Linked DNA regions of Homo sapiens. The protein of the gene in region 1 interacts with the protein of each later gene in a biochemical or structural test. Each region holds a gene or a part of one and is shown on either strand. Other genes may lie near its edges.

Region 1 (5,040 bases):
AGAATGTGGGGTAAGAAGCATCCCAAGAGGAAAACGGAGGGGCTGTTACCAGGAGGAAAAAATGGATGGTAGAGAGACCCAGACAAGGGCATCCATCCCAGAAACCTGGGCGGTAGTGGCTTACACAAATGCTGGGTTCCGTTTTTCTCCCGTGATGAGGAATCTGGGGATTGTCTCTCCAGGGCTGATGGTGCCTTCGATTGCTTTCTGTCCACTGGCTTTTGCATGATTTTTCCTTTTCTTTTTGAAGATTAAATAAACCTCTTATTCTGGAATAATTTTAGAGGTACAGGAAAGTTGCAAAGACAGTACAGAGAGGTCCTGTATACCCTTGGCCAGTTTCCATTGTCAATATCATACATTACTATGATCCGTTTCTCACCACTGAGATACTAATGTCAGTACATTACTCTTAACTGAACTCCATACTTTATTATTCAGATTTCACCAGATTTTTTTTTTAATGTTCACGCCTTCCAACATTTTTTTTTTTTTTTTTTTTGAGACAGAGTCTTGCTCTGTCGCCCAGGCTGGAGTGCAGTGGCGCGATCTTGGCTCACTGTAAGCTCTGCCTCCCAGGTTCAGGCCATTCCCCTGCCTCAGCCTCCTGAGTAGCTGGGACTACAGGCGCCTGCCACCACACCCAGCTAATTTTTTTTGTATTTTTAGTAGAAGCAGGGTTTCACCGTGTTAGCCAGGATGGTCTTGATCTCCTGACCTCGTGATCCGCCCACCTCGGCCTCCCAAAGTGTTGGGATTACAGGTGTGAGCCACCATGCCAGGCCCCAACATTTTATATTTAGTTGTTTGCTTAATATTTCTGCCCTTCACCAGAGTGTTAGCTTCTTGAAGGCAGGAACTTCGTGTGTCTGGGTCACTGCCAAACCCCTCAGGCCCAGAACAGGCCCTGGCACATAATAAGTGCTTAGGTAGGCCGGGCGCAGTGGCTCACACCTGTAATCCCAGCACTTTGGGAGGCAGGAGGATCACCTGAGATCAGGAGTTCGAGACCAGCCTGACCAACATGGTGAAACCCCTTCTCTACTAAATGAAAAAAATTAGCCGGGCGTGGTGGCGGCCACCTGTAATCTCAGCTACTCAGGAGGCTGAGGCAGGAGAAACACTTGAAACTGGGAGGCCGAGGTTGCAGTGAGCCGAGATTGCACCATTGCACTCCACCCTTGGGCAACAAGAGTGAAAACTCCATCTCAAAAAAAAAAATTTTTTTAGGCTGGGCGCGGGGGCACATGCCTGTAATCCCAACACTTTGGGAGGCCAGGGTGGGTGGATCACCTAAGGTCAGGAGTTTGAGACTGGCCTGGCCAACATGGAGAAAACCCGTGTCTACCAAAAATACAAAAAAAATTAGCTGGGCGTTGTGGTGGGCACCTGTAATCCCAGCTACTCGGGAGGCTGAGGCAGGAGAATCGCTTGAACCTGGGAGGCAGAAGTTGCAGTGAGCCGAGATCACACCATTGCACTCTAGCCTGGGCAACAGAGCGAGAGTCTGTCTAAAAAAAAAAGATTTAAAAAGTGCATAGTTAATATTTGTTGAATAAAACTTGGGATGTATCATATCTTGCAGGTGCGTTAGGGCAGAAAAATTAGTGTTGCCTCCTTTGTCTGAGTCTGAGTTTCCTTATCAGTTAAGTTAAAGGGCTTATTTGAAATTCTCTGTTATGTGCTGAGATGGAAATGGTGTTAGAAGTTATAGGATGCGGCCGGGCGCGGTGGCTTATGCCTGTAATCCCAGCACATTGGGAGGCCAAGCAGATCACAAGGTCAGGAGATCGAGACCATCCTGGCTAACACGGTGATACCCCATCTCTACTAAAAATACAAAAAATTAGCTGGGCATGGTGGCGGGTGCCTGTAGTTCCAGCTACTTGGGAGGCTGAGGCAGGAGAATGGCATGCACCCAGGAGGCGGAGCTTGCAGTGAGCTGAGATTGCGCCATTGCACTCCAGCCTGGGCTACAGAGCGAGACTCTGTCTCAAAAAAAAAAAAAAAAAAGGAAGTTATAGGATACAGCATAGATAGGCAGGGTATTGGTGCTGTTATTCTCCTTTTTTTACCCCCTTTTATGCTCCTCTAGGTCATTTTTCCACCCCAAGAAAGAGGGTAAAGCAAAGAAGCCTGAGAAGGAGGCATCCAATAGCAGCAGAGAGACGGAGCCCCCTCCAAAGTATGTCACAGGGCTGGGATATGGTGAATTTTTTCCTTTAGCAGTCAGGATTGTCTTGGTTGCAAGTGTTCAAACCTAATGCAAAATGTCTTGGGGCCCAAAAAACTTTTTCAGCCAGGTGGCCAGAAGTCCAAGAGCAAGAGCAGCTGCAGGCACAGCTGGATCCAGGGCCTCGGAGTTGTCTGTACGTCTCTGTTTCTGCAGGTCTTGGCCTCGTTCTAGAACCAGACATTCTCCATAATGCAGAGAAGCTGGCCGCTGGCCACTGGCCACGTCTTGATGCTGTCTCATCTAAGTAGAAGACAACAGTACTCTTTTTTTTTTGAAATGGAGTCTCACTCTCACCCAGGCTGGAGTGCAATGGTGTGATCTCGGCCCACTGCACTCCAGCCTGGGCGACAGAGCAAGATTCCATCTCAAAAAAAAAAAAAAAAAGGCATCCCAATAGATGCTGGAGACCAATGGCAACCTTAGGCAGGGACTCCATTTGCTCCTCAGCATCACCCATCACAGGGCAGGCACTCTGGAGACTTCCAGAGATGTGTGATGGGTGGGTGAGTGGATGAGTGGGCGGGTGGATTAATGCACTGATGGATGAAATGATGAGATTTGCTGAGGAGACAACCAGAAAATGTTCATTGGATGCTTGAAAGGAAGGGAAGGAAACAGCAAAGAAACCAAAGTGTTTGCGGGCAGTGCCCCCACTCTGCCTGCTGTAGTCGCCCCTTTACACCCCCATTTCCCCACCTTCCAGGGCGGCACTGAAGGAGTGGAATGGAGTGGTGTCCGAGAGTGACTCTCCGGTGAAGAGGCCAGGGAGGAAGGCGGCCCGGGTCCTGGGCAGCGAAGGGGAAGAGGAGGATGAAGCCCTTAGCCCTGCTAAAGGCCAGGTAGGTCCCCATCACCCTGCCCATTTTTACCAGAAGAAACTAATTCCCATTAACCTTTGGAACAGAGTGCAGCAGCTGTTCAGGAGAATTCTGGAGAAATTGCCCGGGAGAGGTAGATGTGTTTCCTGGTTGTGTCGGGGGCAGACACAACCTGGTCCTAATTGCCCCTGCCCTAGGACCTCGGGTGGGCTCCTTCACCACGTTAGGTCTTGGATGCCTCAACTGTAACATGCAGCTCCTGGTAACACCTTCCTCATAGGGTGACTGGGAAGATGAAATGAGTCGATTTACATACAGATCTGAGAATAATGCCTGATGGTAAAACAAGGGCTCAAGGCCCAGCACAATGGCTTACGTCTGTAATCCCAGCACGTTGGGAGGCCAACGTGGGAGGATCACTTGAGGCCAGGAGTTCGAGACCAGGCTGGGCAACATAGCGAGACCCCATCTCTACAAAAAAATGTTTTAAAAATTAGCCAGGTGTGGTGGTGCATGCCTGTGGTGCTATCTCCTTGAGAGGCTGAGGCAGGAGGATCGCTTGAGCCCGGGTGTTCAAGGCTGCAGTGAACTGTGATTGTACCACTGTACTCCAGCCGGGGTGACAGAGCAAGACCTTGCTTCAAAAAAAAAAAAGCAAAAAAATAAGGGTTCAAAAGTATATCTAGCCTCTCCTGTGGTCAGAGGGCTTTTTAACTTCTCCAAATACATTGGACCACTCTCTTCCCCTGTTTAAGTCATTTAATGCTTGTTCATTGCTTTGTGGATGATGTCCAAAGCGTGGTGCTGCTTATTCTGTCAGTGGTGAGGTCAGGTCCTGTGACTCCCTGCCCAAACCCCCTGGTATTACCACCACAGGCCAAAGCCAGGCCTTGTGGAAACCTCCCAGGCCCCTCCTGCTGCTCCTCTCTTCCCCCGCCCATCACATCTGCAGCCGCATCCACAGCTCCTCCTCAGCTCGCTCCATCCTGGCTTCCCACACCCACCAGGTGCACTTCCACCTCTGGGCCACTACCTTCTTTCCCAGCCTAAAACTCTCTTTCCCAGATACACGCCTGGCTCAGTCCCCTGCTTTCTTCCATGCTTTGCTCAGATATCACTTCCTCAGCGAAACTTTCCTCACCACCTATGTTAGCTTCCCATTTGCTGCCATAACAATTGACCACAAACGCAGTGGCTTAAAACAGTGTCAGTTTATTGTCTTACAGTTTGGGAGTCGTGAGTCTCAAATGGGTTGCACTGGGCTAAACTCAAGGTGTCAGCAGGTCTGCGTTCATTTCTGGGGGCTCTGGGGGAGAATCCAGGAATTGCCTTTTCCAGCTGCTAGAGATCCCCTTTTCTCCGTTTTCAAAGCAAGTGGCTGGGTGTGGTGGCTCACGCCTGTAATCCCAGCACTTTGGGAGGCCGAGGCAGGCAGATCACAAGGTCCGGAGATTGAGACCATCCTGGCTAACATGGTGAAACCATGTCTCTATCAAAAATACAAAAAATTAGCTGGGCGTGGTGGCGGGCGCCTGTAGTCCCAGCTACTCGGGAGGATGAGGCAGGAGAATGGCGTGAACCCGGGAGGCGGAGCTTGCAGTGAGCCAAGATCGTGCCACTGCACTCCAGCCTGGGTGACAGAGCAAGACTCTGTCTCAAAAAATAAATAAATAAATAAATAAATAAGCAAGTGGCATTGCCTCCTTCTGTGCCTTTCTTCTGTGGCCACATCTCACCCTGACTTTCCTCTCCTGCCACCCTCTTCCACTTTGAAGGCCCCTGTGACTATATCAGGCCCACCTGGATAGTCCAGGGTAATCCCACTATCGGAAGGTCAGCTGATTAGCAACCTCAATTACCCTTTGCCATGTAACCTAACATATTCCCAGGTTCCAGGTATTAGAATAGAGATCTCTTTTGGAGCTTAGACTTTACCCTGAGGCTTCTGGGGAGCTAGGAAGAGTTTTGGGCAGAAGAGAGGCAGAG
Region 2 (4,269 bases), on another chromosome or scaffold:
GAGATTTTAACAACCTAACAACCTTCTCTTAGAAATTGACAGAACTAGACCAAAAGGAAAAAAACCCCACAAAAATCAATTTATCAGAGAAACACCATCAACTACCTTGATCTAACTGACAGATACAGAACAAACACATGACAACGGTAAAATACACATTCTTTTCAAGTGCATATGAAACATTCACCAGGACAGATCATATGCTGGACCATAAATTAAATCGCAACAAATATAAAAAGATTGAAATCCTACAGAGTATGTTCTCTGACCACAGTAAAACTATATTAGAAATCAATAGCAATAAGGTATCTACAAAAACATAAAATACTTCAAACTGAAACAACATACTTCTAAGTAACCCATGGTCAACAAATAAATCACAAGATATATTAAATTGAACAAAAATAAAAACACAACGTATCAAAATGTGTAGGATGCTGCTAAAGCAGTTCTCAGTGGGAAATGTATAATTTCATTATTTATTTATTTATTTAGACTGAGTCTCGCTCTGCTGCCCAGGCTGGAGTGCAATGGCATGATCTTGGCTCACCGCAACCTCCGCCTCCTGGGTTCAAGCAATTCTCCTGCCTCAGCTTCCCGAGTAGCTGGGACTACAGGTGCCTGCCACCATGCCCAGCTAATTTTTGTATTTTTAGTAGAGTCGGGGTTTCACCATGCTGGCCAGGCTGGTCTCGAACTCTCCACCTCAGGCAATCCACCCACCTCGGCCTCCCAAAGTGCTGGGATTACAGGCATGAGCCATCGCGCCCAGCCAGAAATTTATAACTTTAAATACTCATATTAGGAAGAAAGATCTTTTCACCAGGTAATGAAAAAAAAAAGGAAGAAAGATCTAAAATCAATTAGGTAAAGTTCTAGAAAAAATTGAAGGAAGAAAGCAAGATCAAAACAGAAATCAATTATATTTTTAAAAATAAACAATAGAGAAAATTGAAGTAAAAAGTTAGTTCTTTGAAAACAAAATAGATAAAGCCCTAGTCATACTAAGAGAGGGAACACAAATTATCAAAATCAGAAATGAAAGGAGCATAACATTAAAATGATAAGGGAATATTAATAAAAGGTGAAAAACAACAACAGAAAAGTCATTTTTTTTTTTTTAGTTCACAAAGCATAAGCAAAAGTGTATATAAAAAGAGGATTAATTTAACTCTAAATATGAACCTTCCACAGTCGAAATCTCTTGTAATTCCACAAGGGGAGAAGTCGGTTCTGTTTTCATCGTGTTTTCTCCCATTGATGGGCAGTTCAACTCCAAGCCTGCAGCCCCGGATCCATCCCCAAAGGAGTGGCAAGTCAGTGCAGATGAGACCTGGCCAGCTTCCAAAGCAGACTTCAACTGACCTAGAAGAAAAAAAGAAAGTTTGGGGGAAATATACATGTATGTAATTCTGAAATCAAAAGTCCTACAACAGTCTAAGAAAGCCAGGGACTTTTTAGAGGAAGGAATTAATCTAAAACATAAAAGCATACATTCACAGGTTCCCATACATACAGGCTGGCTTGTGAGCTTCTCAAAGAAAGAGGTTAAAGTGAAAGGAAAAATAGCTGGAAGTATAAACACAAAGGCACGAATGAGATGGCAGCAGAGAGAGAGAAGCAGGGCTCTTCGAACAGTGTACCTCCAGGCCAACACTGAACGGTAGATAAGCAAAACCAACCACAAATGCATCCAGAAAGTATGTCTATTGAATAAATCATCAGTGAAGAGCAATACATTATAAAAACACTGCAGCACATTCAATAGTTTGATTTCAAGACAATTTAATACTTGTGGAAGGCAGAACATAATGATTTACATTGATTCTCACTAAATAGGAACCAGGTTGGCAAGACAATTCCTGAACAGACTGACTCACCTTCTTCAGATTCCTTGGTACTAGACAACGTGTCTTGCAAAGGATCCGTATCAACCAAATCTGATACAACCAAGTCAGGATCTAGGATCTCATGGGTCCCATTAGTGGACAGCCTGGAGGAACGTCTCCTCGATAAGTCTTTGTCAGTGTTTTCCGAGTAGTTTTTTGACTTTTCCTGGGCTATTAAACCATTAAGAGAGTTGTAGTCAAGAGACCAACAAGAAGAAATAACTGTGCTACTACAGATTTCAGGGCTGGATGTCTCTAAAAGGACTTTACAGAGAGACTACTGGAATGTTAGAGTAGTGATAAAAGGAAATACCCTTTACTAGTTTACAGTTTTAAGTAAGGGAAAAGTGTCCCTGCCAGGATAGAATTTCACTTCTTTAAGGATTCATGGTCTGAAAACATGTGCTAGGTCATGTCCGAATCTTGACAACTATGTTCTATTTTGGGGCTTCCCAAATGTACTAACTTGCAAAGTCGACTTAAAAAGGTTTATAAGAGCCTTACTTAGAGCTATCACAAATCCTTTTTGGAGCCAACAGGATACTATTTTATTTTAAATTTATTTAAACATTTGAGCCAACTCACTCCAGAGGGTATTTTTTTAAATCAATAAATAGTATTTTATTTTGTATTTTTATTTTTTATAGGACAGAGTCTCACTCTATCACCCAGGCTGGAGGGCAGTGGCACAGTCTTGGCTCACTGCAACCTCTGCCTCCCAAGTTCAAACAATTCTCCTGCCTCAGCCTCCCAAGTAGCTGGGATTACAGGCACCCGCCACCACACCCGGCTAATTTTTTTTTTTTTTTTTTTTTTTTTTTTGAGACGGAGTCTCGCTCTCTCGCCCAGGCTGGAGTGCAGTGGCGCGATCTCGGCTCACTGCTAGCTCCGCCTCCCGGGTTCATGCCATTCTTCTGCCTCAGCCTCCTGAATAGCTGGGACTACAGGTGCCTGCCACAACACCCGGCTAATTTTTTATATTTTTAGTAGAGATGGGGTTTCACCATGTTAGCCAAGATGGTCTCAATCTCCCGTCCTCATGATCTGCCCACCTCAGCCTCCCAAAGTGCTGGGATTACAGGCGTGAGCTACCGCGCCTGGCCACACCCGGCTAATTTTTATATTTTTAGTAAAGATAGGGTTTCACCATGTTGGCCAGGCTGTTCTCAAACTCCTGACCTCAGATGATCCACCCACCTCAGCCTCCCAAACTGCTGGGATTACAGGCATGAGCCACTGCGCCAGGCCAATAAGTAGTATTTTTAAAGTTTCACTCTGCATATGAAACCCATCCCTTCCTAAGCCATTAAATTTCCAGTGGCATCCAAATCAAATGTGATTTATGGATATGGAGATGATACCACAGAACCCAACATTAGTACAGTTTGTGCTTTGGGATTTATTTTTCTTCTAGCAAAAACTCCTTCTGATCCAACTGCATCCAACTCACATTACCTCATGTGACCAGAGACAAACATTAGAGCCTATAGGGAATGGGGGACAGGATGAATATAGAGGAAGTTGACCCAAACAACGTCAAATTCTAGCCACACATAAACAAACTGTAGACTCACATGAATTTTTGTCAAGCCGAGGACGTTTTAATGGGACTTCACATCCTTTTGATATTTTCCTTCTTCTCAGTTCCAATGTTATTGGTTGCAAAGTTTGAGAGTTTGAATCCACAGCTACCATGTTTATAAAACCACACAAAAAAAGATACATAATTTCTTAGTGTCTGTCATTTTTATATATAAATAAAACATATATACATATATATATGCAGAAATCACTGCATTATAAATGGGCCATCAAAAGGGCATTCTTACTTAAGATAAAAGAAAAAAAGTAAAATGAGTGAGAAATTACTTCCTTACAGGAGATGGTGATACCTTGCCAATTGACCTCCTGAATCTTTTCTATGATCCAGCTCCAGTTTTCAACCTCTACTTGCTACATTAATTATCTTAGCACTGGGCCTAGTTTTGAGGGTACAAGAAAAATGTCCAAGAGAATTTGTGGATTTTTTTTTTTTGAGATGGAGTCTCGCTCTGTCACCCAAGCTGGAGTGCAGTGCCGCGATCTCTGCTCACTGCAACCTCCGCCTCCCAGGTGCAAACGATTCTCCTGCCTCAGCCTCCGGAGTAGGTGGGATTACAGGCACCCGACACCACACCCGGCTAATTTTTGTAATTTTAGTAGAGTCACGGTTTCCCCATGTTGGTCAGGCTGGTCTCAAATTCCTGACCTCAAGTGATCCAGCTGCCTCGTCCTCCCAAAGTTCTGGGATTACAAGCATGAGCCATGAGACCCAGCCGAGAATTTGTATTTTCTTAAACAAAATCCTAAAAAAATTCTTGGGAGACTATGCTAGTTAACA
Region 3 (4,269 bases), on another chromosome or scaffold:
AGTTTATTTTGTGAAGGATCACAGGTTGGCCACTTTAAAAGTTCTTAACTTTCCATTTTAAAAATTCATTAGTGTTGTGAGATATGTGTGCTGTTAATTTCACTTAAATAATGGGAAATTTATTTTGACTCATCCACTTTTGGAAAAAAGTGCTGGGTTAAGGCAAATATATACTATAAAAGAAAATAGTGAGCATTTGAAACTAGCTTATGAATGCCATAGTAGTGAATGAATACTGTATGGCATTTTGTCTGCCTTTTTTTTTTTGTAAACCTTAGTGTGTATCCTTTTCATTTTCTGTATTTATTGTTGACTTTATTTTGTTAGCCTTCTCCCTTTGTGGCAGTAGCTGTTTTGTTTTTCATGTAGTATAGGTATCTGATACACTTCTGTCTATTACAGTTTGTCTTTGCTCCTCCCACCATTATTCCTACCTTCTTGTACTGTACAGTGGCAGAAAGCTGTTTGGGCCCAGTACTCAAGTATCTTGACTAATGAGAATCATAACACCTGACTTAGAAATGGTATCCAAAAACGTCAGGTGTTTGCTGCATGTTTTTGTATTTCAGGGGATTTTTATTTTGTGTGTGTGTATGTGTTACCTATATGCTTGCATAGCTTGAAATGCCCTTTTGCAGTCTTGAGGCCTTTCTTACATATCTGTCTGCACACTTCATATGCCTGCATAGCTTGAAATGTCCTTCTGTAGCCTTGAGGTGTTCTTAACTTTTTTCTGCTTGCTGCTTTACTTGTGGGATGGCTTTAATGATTGAGCAATTAAGGTTTATCTTTTTTAAATAGTATTTGGGTTTTTTGTTTTTGTGTTTTTTTGAGACAGAGTTTTTCTCTTGTTGTCCAGGCTAGAGTGCAATGGCGTGATCTTGGCTCACCGCAACTTAAGCCTCCTGGGTTCAAGCAGTTCTCCTGCCTCAGCCTCCCAAGTAGCTGGGATTACAGGCATGCACCACTATGCCTGGCTAATTTTGTATTTTTAGTAGAAACGGGGTTTCTCCATGTTGGTCAGGCTGGTCTCAAACTCCTGACCTCAGATGATCTGCCCACCTCGGCCTCCCAAAGTGCTGGGATTACAGGCATGAGCCACTGCCCCCGGCAATAGCATTTGCTTTAAGATGAAATGTTAAGATGGATTCCTTCTCAGCCCATAGGATCTTCTGATTAACCATTTCAGGGTTTTTTTTCCCCCATTTTTAATCCTCTCATAAAAATTTTCCCCATTTTTAGTCCTCTCATAGGAAATCTTGAGCCATTGGAAAGAGCTGGTTCACGTTGGTTTCCTGCTTCTCTTAAATAGTGTCATACCAAAGAAAATGCCTGTTTAAAGTGAATTTGGTTACCAGTATAGACTTTCTCTTGAGAAACCAGGAAGGAAGGATTTTTTTCACCTTAGGGAATTAAAATAAATTTGTAATGTTGGTCTCTTGAAGTGATAGCTTTATAGTTTTGTTCTAAGTGGTAGGAAATATTATCTACAGAGATTATGGAAAAATAATCTTGTCCTTTAATTGAACCTCCTAGTGGTCTCTATAGTTGACCCTGCAGTTGGTATCAGGATTTTGAACCATGTTTTCATTCTGCATTTATCTTTTCTCTGTATCATTGATGCTTTTGACATTAATATTTGAATTGAGAAGGGGGCTGGGGCTTTTACCATCTGGGGGTGGATACAAGGTCTGTCATAGGTTCACCTAAGACCTGTCACTACTACTTGCTTCTCTGTATCACCCTTTAGGTACTTCCTGCATAGTTGTTTGTTGCAGTGTTGTTAAAATGAGTGAAAATTAGTAAACTTGGTCTTTTAAGACTACAGGGCCGGGCGCAGTGGCTCACGCCTGTAATGCCAGCACTTTGGGAGGCCCAGGCTGGTGAATCACTTCAGGTCAGGAGTTTGAGACCAGCCTGGTCAACATGGTGAAACCCTGTTTCTAATAAAAACACAAAAAAAATTAGCCCGGCATGGTGGCATCCGCCTATAATCCCAGCTACTCTGGAGGCTGAGGCATGAGAACTGCTTGAACCTGGGGAGGCGGAGGTTGCAGTGAGCTGAGATCACGCCACTGCACTCCAGCCTGGGCGACAAGAGTGTGAGACCCTGTCTCAAAAAAAAAGACTGGAAAAAAATAACTGTTTCCAGATAGTGTTTTTTTATTGTATTATTTTGGTGGTGGGTTGTAAGTTTGAACTAAATGAACAAGATAAAGCATTCTTTTATTTTATTGTCTGTTGACTTTTAATCTTTCCAGAAGGTGTCTGCCCTGGGATATAGAAGTAAAAATTTATGTCGAATGTGATAATAATATAAGCAATTGAGCCTTGAAAATGTGCTCAAAATTCAAGAGGAATATTTCTTAATTTCTCTTTTGTTTTATTTTAGCAAAAAATGGGAAAAAAACAGAATGGAAAGAGTAAAAAAGTTGAAGAGGCAGAGCCTGAAGAATTTGTCGTGGAAAAAGTACTAGATCGACGTGTAGTGAATGGGAAAGTGGAATATTTCCTGAAGTGGAAGGGATTTACAGAGTAAGAAACTTTAGTGCATCTTTACTATATGTTTAACTGCAGCTAAGTGGTTTTAGAATTTGTTTTTAACCTGGCTCTTTTACCTGCTTTCCTGTAGGTGTCTTTAAATGTAAAGACACTTTGAATTTTAGGTGTCTCATTTGAGGTCTATTTCAAAAGAACCAAGACTTTATTGTACAGTTGAAGGTGAGCAGACTAGAGACTAGTTTATTACCCTGGGGAGTCAAATTTATAAAATTATGGAGTGTAGTTTACTATGTAATATATTTTAATGTGGTTAGATATTACACTAATTAGAATAATCTGCATTATTTTCCTCCACACAGAGGGTGCTAAAAACATTGAAGCTTTACAATATAGACTAGTGGGTCTCATACAGGATTACATATAATCTAGGCTTTATACTAGGTTTATTATATCCTTATACCTAAGAAGTAGAACCTGGGCATGTTTTAAGCTCTCTGGTTCCTTGTGTTCTTTGATATGGATTGCTCTCATTATTCTTGATAATGTTATTCACAAAATGTGAATAACTTGAACATGCAACAATTACATACTTTAACGCTTGGGGTTTGTTGTGCTTATCTGCTTTGATTCTTCCCCCTTACACCACAAAGCTCCATAGGCAGTGACAATTAAAAATGGATAGGTGGAGATCAATTTCCTGAGCACGCTGGAGATGGAGCATATGATAGTCGAATGATTGGGCTTCACCTATCTGTTATCTCCTACTTCCCCTGCTCTTCACATTTAATTCATAGCAGTTTGGGAATTATGAATTGAATGGGAGATTTACGTTTGCCTGTTTTATCCTTCAGTATTCTTAGTTTAAATTAAGTATGTGTCGTAAGTCCCTTCTTTATTAAGCCCATGAAACATGAAAAATTATTTTTACCCATCAAAACATTAGGAAATGAATGGGCTCCTCCCTCTTCTCCCAAAACTTAAGGCCACTAGCATGATTATAGCGTACTTCCCATGTGCAGTGTAACAGGTAATGTAAAAGACTTTTTTTTGTTTTGTTTTGAGATGGAGTCTCACCCTGTTGCCCAGGCTGGAGTGCAGTGGCGTGATCTCAGCTCACTGCAACCTCTGCCTTCCGAGTTGAGGCGATTTTCCTGCCTCAGCCTCCTGAGTAGCTGGGACTACAGGCGCCTGCCACTATGCCCGGCTAATTTTTGTATTTTAGCAGAGACCGGGTTTCACCATGTTGGTCAGGCTGATCCCAAACTCCTGACCTCAAGTGATCCACCTGCCTTGGCCTCCCAAAGTGCTGGGATTACAGGTGTGAGCCACCGTGCCAGGCCAAAGAAGACTTTAATGAAAATAATACTACAGAGCAGAGACTTTTATTGTCCTCTACCCAGTAATTTGGGTTTACTAATTTGGAGTCTCAGGGTAGCAAATTAGAATATAGGGCCTGGGTGCAGTGGCTCACACCTGTAATTCCAGCACTTTGGGGGTCCAAGGCTGGAGGATCACTTGACACCAGGAATTCAAGACCAGCCTGGCCAACAAAATGAGACCCCTTCTCTATTAAAAAAAAAAAAAAAGTGTGTGTTTTAAGTTAGCTGGGCATGGTGGTGCATGCCTGTAGTCCCAGCTACTTGGGCTGAGGTGGAGGATCGCTTGAGTCGGGAGTTGGAATCTTCAGTGAGCTATGATTCCACTACTGCACTCTCGTCTGGGCAACAAAGCAAGACCCTGTCTCTGGCGGAGGCAGGCTGGGGGGTG
Region 4 (4,269 bases), on another chromosome or scaffold:
TGAGTTAAAAAAAATAATTCAACCTATTTTACCTGTTTCAGGTTTGTGGATACCGGATAAAGCTTCACTTTGATGGGTATTCTGATTGCTATGACTTCTGGGTGAATGCAGACGCTCTGGATATCCACCCAGTTGGGTGGTGTGAGAAAACCGGCCACAAACTCCATCCTCCAAAAGGTTTTGTCACTTTTTGTTTGATATTTTAAATTCAGTAAAAACTCATTTTCTTACATGCTACATTAGAATTGTTAAGAATTCAGACTTTATGAAAATTCAGATAGGCACAAATTTAACCTTATTGTTTATGATGAAACCATGTTTATTAAAGTTAAAGAAATAAAAGCAGAATCCAGCCTAGGAAAATAAAGTATGTTCATATGCTTATTTTCATGTAAAATAACATTTGCATGATACTCAACTTTGACTACAAATAATGTTTACCTGCAAATTTCTATTATTAAATACATACATCTTTGAAAAAACTGATTTGAAAAATTAGTTTAAATTAGTTTATATAACTAAGTTTAGTGTTAACTGGTTTAAACTAATTTTTCAAATCAGTTTTTCATTATATAGAAAATCCTGAGAAATTATGCTTGACCGTATAGATCTTAATATTTAGGAGATTGGCAAGAAGACTGTAACACTAAAAATTGGCTTAGGTGGGGGGTTGAACTCATAGCAATTACTTTTCTTATATTTGAGTACTTTATATTATAGTCCCCCAGTGATTTTCCTATTTCATGTTTATATCAAAGTTCAAGAATAACAGATATCGTCTTTTTCACTGTCTGCCTAAAGTATTCCCTAATTTTTTTTTGAGACGGAGTCTTGCTGTGTCGCCCAGGTTGCAGTGCAGTGGTGTGATATTGGCTCACTGCAGCCACTGCCTAGCAGGTTCAAGTGATTCTCCTACCTCAGCCTCCCGAATAGCTGGGATTACAGGTGCCTGCCACCATGCCTGGCTGATTTTTGTGTTTTTATTAGAGACAGAGCTTCACCATGTTGGCCAGGCTGGTCTCAAACTTCTGGCCTCAAGTGATCTGCCCACCTTGGCCTCCCAAAGTGCTGGGATTACAGGTGTAAGCCACCGTGCCCGGCCATATTTAGTAATATCTTATTCCCTTCTATTTCAATCATTACATTGATTTTTGTTTATGTCAAAAATTCAGGTTACTGGGTTGATATTTTTGGCCTGTCTCAGGGCTTTAATGCATTAGCCATCCCTTTGTTTTAAGTGAAAAAATAATGGCAGAGTGGTATTTTCAGATAGCTGAAGGATTCAACAAAATAGCATAGAAAAAGTGAGGGTGAAAAAGAAAATCTGTAAGCCTTTTCACGAATTGATCTCTTATATATGGTAAATTATTAGCTGGTTTTTTCATGCTGCTTTCTGGACTTTAATGAATGTAAAATAAAGCATATTCGCAGATAAAATAAGATGCTCAATTTCCTTTTTAAAGGAAATGTTAACTTCAATGAAATTGTAAAAATTAAGGGGAGGACATTTCCCTTATTGTAATTTGCCAGCATCCTTACTTCATAAACCTTAAATTGTCCTTCTTGAAGTGATAGGCCAAAAAGATTTTACCTGTTTCATTTCTATTATTTCCACCTTTCCACTTGTTCCTATAAGTTAGTCTTCCCAAAATAGACTAGGTGAGAGAAAAATAAAGAATTTTGACTATTGTAGTTCAGTATCTATACCGCTGAGGAATTCTACCTAAATACTGGTACAAATACCCTGATAATAAGTGTCCTGGGTATAATACATATTTGTTTCCTTATTCCTTTTCTTTATATCCATTACCATTCATTCAGAATTGGAAAATAATAATACAGTTTGTTGAAAATAAACATAGTCTAAATATGCATAGTTATGAATTATGAGTTAAATTTTGTTTATTTAAAAAGTCATTTGATTGATTTTGGCATGTTAGAGATAAAAGTGGGACTGGAAAACTAAGTGTAAAATATTGTGGTATTTGAATCAATCTGTTCATATGTGCTTACTCTAGGGTATAAAGAAGAAGAATTCAATTGGCAGACCTATCTTAAGACATGTAAAGCTCAAGCTGCTCCTAAGTCATTATTTGAAAATCAGAATATAGTAAGTACATACGAAACACGTTTTCTTTCAAAGGAAGAAGTTTTTTGAGTGTCTCATAGGATCAATTACAAGTGATAACAAGGAACTATAATAAATTTTATCGCCTTGGTAAATAGAGTACTCTTATCTTAATTAAAGTTTAAAATTAGCTTAAAATCTTCATGAACAAATATGTTTTATAGCCATATTATGGTTGTCTCTTTTATTGCATAGTAGAAGACAAGATAGTACAAGATTCAGGTGAGATTTACAATTAAGATGCATAAAAAATTAAATTGGCTGAGATATTTTATTGTTATTATCACTTATATGGGAGTGCTGTTCAAATGGGATTCACATAGCCAGATGAAGGTAGCCCTGTTTCAGTTTACATGTAGGAGGTCACTGGAGACTGTGACATATCTTCACTCTAGCTTATAGCTTTGTTTACAGTAAACAAAAACAAAATCTGGATGTGCGTGTCTTTTCTACTTGACCGGTATTCCTGCTTTCCATAACATGTTCCTCCATTGGCCGACTTGATCCATGACATTTTTCTTTTCCCAAGTTCTGATCTAATTGGAAAGAATAAAGGGCAAGCCAGTGGAAAACCAAAATGCCATCTTTACAGATGGTCAGAGCTGAGTTGGAGGACGTGCATGGCTTGTATCTGCAGACAAATAAGCTTGATTCTGAGCCCTAGAATGGAAGAGATTTAATTCGCCTTTCACGCCCATCCCCCAAGCCTGGAGAACACTAGACCCTTGAGGAGCAGAGTGGAAACTGTGCACCCTGCAGCCCAGCTTTCTCTCTAGTATGATCAGTTCCTCCTTTCCAGAGTCACCAGGCTGGTAGCAGTGAGTGAGACAGTGGGGAGAAGCAGTAATGTTTCACTAACAGCATTCCCTTCAAATGGAAATAAATAAATATCAAGAGCAGGAGAAACCTCCTCACTCCAAAAATCCTTCATTTGGGAAACAGTGTTAACCAGTTGGTTTGAGAGCATCAATCTAATGGCTGAAATGTTTTCTGATTTAATCAAACACAAACCAGGTTGGATTACAGAACTGACACATTGTGTTTGTGTGCATGCGTATGTGTGTTTAGGTTAGTAATAGTGTTAATGGGCCAGCTTATTATTTTAAAACATCTTAATTGAGAGGATAGTGTAATTGCCAAAGTGTAACAGTGCATTGTCAGTTGGTATTCTCTGTCAAAACTTATCCCAGGGAGGAAGGTCAGTTGGGTGGAAAACTTAGCAGCCTGCTGTCTCTGCTCCAAGTTTCCTAATCCCTGTCTGGTTCTCTGATGATGACTTCAGTCAGGGATTTGATTAACTGCCTTGAACGGTCTTCCTAAATTCTATGCATTGCCAGCATACAACTTAATCTTGGGCTCTCCATTTCGTATCTAAGAGACAATTAATTTTTCCATTTCTAGATTACCTCAGAATACTCAAACATTTATGATCAGAACTCGGATAAATTTCAGTACTTAAATGCATAGTAAAGATTTCTGTATAGCATTAGTGCCTGTTCTATCCATTCAGACACAACTTATTCTAACATTTTCAGATACACGGCTGTCTACATTTTTGCAATGATAGTTGTATAATTATAGTAAAATGAGAGATAGCATTTATTTTGCCTAAAGTAGTTAGAATAATATCTGTATAATTGAGTCTAACAGAGGTTTTTGTTTGTTTTTTGTTTTTTGTTTTGTTTTGTTTTGTTTTTAGGGAAGGAATGACTTGTAGTGTGTTGTGATTTGCATAATTGGTATCTAGATATACTAGTCTATAATATGTAGAGATAGATAGATTAAGATATTATTCCTCACAAAAGATTGTAAGAGATTTTATATATTACTGTACCTTAAGCACTAACTCTTACAGAACTTTCATTGTTTTTGTTCCATGTTCTGAATGACTGGTTATCTGTGGATTTCTTTAAGTTACCAACTATTTTGAATAGCTTTGTACATCAACAGCCAATTCTTTTGCTGCTATTAGGAATAAAATATATCTGTAGTGTTGAGTAAAAGTTGTAATAATTTGCAGCCTTTCATATATGAAGATGACCTACTTTCGAGAGTACTCTTTTGAGAGATATTTTCGGAAGTGGGAGTGAATTTGTACTGACTCATGCACATTTTTAACTTGATTAAGTGCATATTTTGTG

Evidence for each region. Proteins that work in one complex are often made in the same cells at the same time.
Region 2: the proteins of LIG1 (region 1) and PHF20 interact in a test that uses a peptide from one of them, tested with the Homo sapiens proteins (one study listed by BioGRID).
Region 3: the proteins of LIG1 (region 1) and CBX3 interact in a test that uses a peptide from one of them, tested with the Homo sapiens proteins (one study listed by BioGRID).
Region 4: the proteins of LIG1 (region 1) and L3MBTL3 interact in a test that uses a peptide from one of them, tested with the Homo sapiens proteins (one study listed by BioGRID).

What each region holds. Positions count from the first base shown.
Region 1 is NC_000019.10:48,159,407-48,164,446, reverse strand, and holds part of LIG1 (DNA ligase 1), read left to right. Parts: intron 1-2,095; coding exon 2,096-2,185; intron 2,186-2,939; coding exon 2,940-3,075; intron 3,076-5,040.
Region 2 is NC_000020.11:35,868,746-35,873,014, reverse strand, and holds part of PHF20 (PHD finger protein 20), read right to left. Parts: intron 3,578-4,269; coding exon 3,464-3,577; intron 2,061-3,463; coding exon 1,881-2,060; intron 1,366-1,880; coding exon 1,186-1,365; intron 1-1,185. UniProt on the Homo sapiens protein: Methyllysine-binding protein, component of the MOF histone acetyltransferase protein complex.
Region 3 is NC_000007.14:26,203,976-26,208,244, forward strand, and holds part of CBX3 (chromobox protein homolog 3), read left to right. Parts: intron 1-2,392; coding exon 2,393-2,535; intron 2,536-4,269.
Region 4 is NC_000006.12:130,066,312-130,070,580, forward strand, and holds part of L3MBTL3 (lethal(3)malignant brain tumor-like protein 3), read left to right. Parts: intron 1-41; coding exon 42-177; intron 178-2,018; coding exon 2,019-2,110; intron 2,111-4,269. UniProt on the Homo sapiens protein: Is a negative regulator of Notch target genes expression, required for RBPJ-mediated transcriptional repression. It recruits KDM1A to Notch-responsive elements and promotes KDM1A-mediated H3K4me demethylation.